Regions from separate parts of the Homo sapiens genome. Here region 1 is linked to region 2. Evidence: fine-mapped expression QTL. Tissue or cell type: whole blood. Region 2 holds a variant in brackets; the other region holds the start of a gene. All regions are shown on one strand. Distances are between the middles of the regions.

What was found. PIP is the estimated chance that this variant, and not a neighbour inherited with it, causes the effect.
Region 1: it holds the start of SAMD14, and the variant in region 2 is the best candidate, but not a certain one, in a credible set for the expression of SAMD14 in whole blood (INTERVAL, PIP 0.72).

The regions. Positions count from the first base shown.
Region 1 is chr17:50,128,779-50,131,278 of GRCh38, reverse strand. SAMD14 (sterile alpha motif domain containing 14) reads left to right here and starts at 1,119. Exons shown (of 10, transcript NM_001257359.2): 1 at 1,119-1,762. RefSeq lists silencers at 1,024-1,103, 1,344-1,403.
Region 2 is chr17:50,159,220-50,161,719 of GRCh38, reverse strand. It overlaps LOC124904025 (a long non-coding RNA gene), which reads right to left. Exons shown (of 3, transcript XR_007065841.1): 2 at 2,288-2,410; 3 at 1,363-1,998. LOC105371818 (a long non-coding RNA gene) reads left to right here. Exons shown (of 4, transcript XR_934833.3): 3 at 572-699. Among named protein-coding and RNA genes, the nearest start is that of SGCA, 5.5 kb to the left of the region's middle. RefSeq lists silencers at 1-227, 258-337 and an enhancer at 1-232. The variant A/G (reference allele first, on the strand shown) is at 1,186.

The DNA of each region.
Region 1 (2,500 bases), 30 kb after region 2:
TGCGCCTGGCCTTTCACCACTTGCTCTTGAGCAAAGCACTTTCCTTCTTCTAAGTCTCTGTTTTCTCTGAGGCAGTGGGTAATGGAAACACCCACCTTGTGGGTTTATTGTGAGGGTGACAATAGATGATCTGAGAGCGCCTGGCACCTGCCAAGCTGTGACGTGCGGTAGCTGGTTGTGGATCCCTACATTGCCTCCCTGGCTGGCCTGCCACTACCATCAGCGCACTGGGTCCAAGTCTGATCTCATCCGTCCCCACCCCCACCTGCTCCAGGGCTTCCTGCCTCAAGCCAAGGTCCACAGCCATCCTAGACCCCTCCTCCCTCACCTCCTAGTCCAGCAGGTCCCCAAATCCTGTCAGCTTCTTCGGTGTCAGCTTCTTCAGGCCTGCATCCTGAAGGGCTCTCAGCTTAATCTGTAATCTTTATGCCCACTGCCACCGGCCCTCAATAGCCTCCAGCGGGTCTCCCTGCCTTCAGAGTGCCCTCTGTAACCCTGTCTCCAGGGGAGCCAAGGGTGCTTCCTAAATGCACACCTGAGCCCCTCCCTCCTCTTAATTTTGTGTGTGTGCGCGCGCGCGCGTGTGTGTGTGTGTGTGTGTGTGTGTGTGGGCGGCGGGGTGGGCGGCTGGTAGAATAAAGTGCAAGCCCCCTGCACCTCCCCAGCTTCAATTTATCTTCCCCTCTTGCCCTCCCACCCCCAACACCCCCTGGCACTTCCCTACCCTGGCCCGCAGTTGTAGCCAACACATCACATCCTCTGGGAATCCCCCAGCCCAGCTCCCGCCGCGGCCGCCTGGACCCAGGCCGGGCCAGGGGTGCGCTCTCCCTTCCGGCAAGAAGTGCCCTCTGTTAGCTGGGCCCATGGCGCCCAGGCTCGTGAGGGCCTCCCCACTCGTCTGAGCCCCCGACTGGCCCACTGGCCTTGAGCGCAGTTAGGGGGCGGGGGTTCTGTTCACCGCTGTCCCCTCCAGCCTCGGCGCCCCGGCTGCTCGGCGGACGTTTGTTGAATGAATGAACTAATCGGGAGCCCTGATGGACCCGGCAGAGGAGGCGGAAGCCCCGTGGGTCCCGTGGCGGGACCGCCCCGGAGCCGCTCCCACCCGCGCAGACTCCGGTGCGCCGCGTCTCCCGCGGGCAGAGAAGTAGCTGCAACTCCGCTCCCCGGCCCCAGCCGCCTCCTCCCCGCCGCCCTCCCCCGCCCCCGCCCCCTCGCTCCCTCCCGCTCTTTGTCTCCTGGGCGCCCGGCTTCTCCGCCACGCGCCCCCCACCCCGACGCCCCTTCCCCGGAGACCCCCGCGGACCCCTGCCGACGCGACGCCGCGCGAATCGGCCCTGCCAGGCGGGGGCCCCGCGTCCGGCCAGGCCTGGCGGGCGGCAGGGGCGGGGAGGGAGGTGGCGCTCGCTCTTCGCTCTTCTCTCTCTCTCTCTCTCTGTCACACACACACACACGCACACGCACACGCACACACACACGGAGCATCCTCCCGTCAGGTCTCCTGGTCCAGCCCCGCCCGCGCCTCCTGCTTCCAGCGAACCTGTTCCCTCTCCCCACATCCCCCGCCCTCCATCTCCCCCGGCTCTGGGACCCTTCCCGCCGACCTCACCCCCACCCCCGGGATGGAGCGGCTCGAGCCCGCCCGGAGCCCCCCGCGGCCGGGGTGACGGTCCCCCCACCCCTCTCCTGCCCGGCCCCCGCCTCGAGCACCATGGGCCTGAGGGGTTCCCGGGGCGCCAGACGCTGAAGATGACCGATGCCGGAGGTGAGGGGCCGGGCGCCCTGGGGTGGACCGGGAACTGGGGCTAGGGCCACTCGGGCCCGCGGTGGGACCCTGAGTGGGGTTGGGCAGGGCTAAGCGACAAGGGCCTTTCTTCCCCTATCCCTAGGGGGACCGCACGGGGCTGGGGTGCCGGGCTGTCAGGGGAGGGGGCGGAGATAGGATTTATGGCCCTAATCCCCTCCCTCCCGCCCGACGCCCGGAGAAATTAATAAAAAGCTGGTGTGGGGGGAGGGGGAGAGGGCTTAACTCTTTCTTGCCCGGCGGGGAGTTGTGCTGATGGTTTGGAGAGAAACTAGCCACCGGGCTCTGACTGGGGAGAAGGGCTCTGAGAGTGGAGTAGGTGCCCTGTCCCCAACCTCACCCCATCTCCAACAGTGCTTTGAGGGGGTGCCCGACTCCTGAGGACTACCCCAAGCCTGGGGCCAGTGGACGGCCGGCGATATGGGAAGGGGGGACCACCTCTCTGGCTCCACAACTGCCTCCCCGACCGCTAGTCTCCTTTCCCATCCACCTCTTCCCGGCCTCTCCCAGTTGCACTTCTCTCTGTCGCTTTCTCCTCTTCAGGGGCCCTTTCCTATCGCCTGCCCGAAGGGCTTCTCCCTTCTCTCCCACCCTCGGGCGTCACTTAGAGCGGCGGAAGCCCTTGTTCCCAGTGCCAGTTCCCGTGGCCCCACTCTCGGTGTGATCTCTTTCTTCTCAGCAGCCCTGTGGACTCTCCGC
Region 2 (2,500 bases):
CCTGTCCCGTACGCCGCCTCCAGCGCAACAACAAAGACTGCGACCTGGCCAGTCCGCCACGAGAGGGCGCGTTCGCTGGCGCCAGCCCGGTCTTGCGCCTGCGCGATGTTGGGACGGAGCGGGAGTCGGGGGCGGGATGCCTGCGGAGCGCGCCGCCCCGGGCTGGGGATGCGCGTCAGCAGTGCGTGCTGGGGGACGCAGTTACAGGGGGCGACGCAGGAGGGAACCCAAGGCCACGAGCTCCATCTCGTCCTCCCCTTCCCGACCCAGAAAACGCTCTAATCTACAGGGGGAGGAGAAGCCGCACGGAGGCAGGGGGCTGGACATAATGATCTCTTCCCCATCCCACCTCCACCCATCCCACCATCTGTATCAAGCCTCCGACTTCCAAGGACATTTCCATATCCCCCCAGACATTTTGGGATACCAGCCTGGAGACCTAAATGTACCCAGAATCCCCCGCCTTTTTATCGGTGGATTTCAGCCCTCAAAGCGTTCCGTGAGCCTCTGACCGCCCAAATCCATCACACATGAGTTGGAATGCCAGGGACCATTCCCGGCCAAACGTTAGATTACAGGAGTAAGAGAGAAGAGGAGGGACTGTCCGAGGTGCCTCGGCACTATGGCTGCACAGCTGGATCTCTGGACACGGAGCCCTGGACCGTTTCCACCCAGACACTCCCATTCCATCAAGTGGGGGTAAGAAGGATCAATGAGATAATGGAAGCGAAAGCGCTTTGCAAACTGTAAAGCTCTGGAGAAAGTAAGGGTGTTTTATTTATTTATAACTGACAGTGCAAGGTAATAGCTGCCCAGGGCCAGCCCACAGGCACAGCCCAAGAGCTGGAAAAGGTCAGATTTAGAAGCCACCATTCACTGATAGAAGGATTAGGAAAATAAGACCAGGCACGGGGGCTCACACCTGTAATCCCAGCACTTTGGGAGGCCGAGGTGGGTAGATCACGAGATCAGGAGTTCCAGACCAGCCTGGCCAACATGGTGAAACCCCATCTCTACTAAAAATAATTAGCTGGGCGTCGTGGTGGGCACCTGTAATCCCAGCTAATCAGGAGGCTGAGGCAGGAGAATCTCTTGAACCCGGGAGGCAGAGGTTGCAGTGAGTTGAGATCACGCCATTGCACTCCAGCCTGGGTGACAGAGCGAGACTCCGTCTCAAAAAAAAAA[A/G]TTTAAAAAAGAAGGGTTAGGAAAATAAGAGGCAAAAGTCTCTGACATCTGTAGACAGCATGATTATTTATATGGAAAATCAAGAGATTCTACGGGCATATTATTAGAGTGATTAAGTGAAGTCATGCTGGACAAATGTCAACATCCAAATACAAAAAACCATATAAAATTCAGCAGTGTTTCTACGCACTAGCAATAGTTTATTAGAAATTGTAGTATCTTTCAAAAAGAAATCATTCACAATAAAATTAAAATTGTACAAAACCCAGAAAAAAATTACAAAACACATTGCAAGATATTTAGGAAGTAAAACATAGGCTACAATAGTAATAAATGGAGAGCCATAGAGAAGTATTAGGTTAAGTATGAGATGCCTCCATGTTATGAAGACGATTCTCTCCACGTTAATCTGTTGATTCATTGCAGGTCCAATAAATATTCCAACAGGATTTTTCACAGGGCTAGGCAAACTGATTCTAAAATTCATAGAGAAGAGCAAAGACCCAAGAAAAAAGTAGACAGTTCTGAAAAAGAATAAGGAAAGAGACCTGGCCCTAACAAATACCAAGACTTTTTTGAAAGCGATAGTAATTAAAACAATGTGGTATCGGTGCCGGGCTAGACAAAGGAATCAATAGAATAGAGTGCCCAGAAACAGATCCAAGTATATGTGGGAATGTGATTTATGATAGTGGCGGCACTGCAACTCAGTGAGAAAGAATAGACTTCAGTAAAATGTGTTGTGACAATTGGCTTTTCCTATGAAAAATCTTCACACCATCCATAAATATGAATTCCAGATGGATTAAAGACCTAAAAGTGAAAAACAAAACTTTAAAATAATTAGGAGAAAATGTAGGAGACCTAAGGGTAGGAAAGCATTTCTTAGACAAGAGACACACTCAAAAAAGATCAGCCGATTTTTATTACATTACCCCCCAAAAGCCCTCTGCTATGAAAATGATATTACAAAGAAAGTTAAGAGACAAGGAGCAGCCTAGGTGGCAATGGTGACAGCATACACAACAGATAAAGGGTTAGCATTCAGAATATACAGACCTCCTAGGAATCTACAAAATTAGCTGGGTGTGGTGGTGCGCACCTGTAATCCCAGCTACTTGGGAGGCTGAGGCAGGAGAATTGCTTGAACCTGGGAGGCAGATGTTGCGGTGAGCCAAGATTGCGCCATCCCACTCTAGCCTGGGCAACAAGAGCGAAACTCCATCTGAAAAAAAAAAAAAAAAACCTCCTAGGAATTAGGAATCAATATGGAAAAGACAGAACTTTTATTTTATTTTTATTTCTTCTTTTTTTT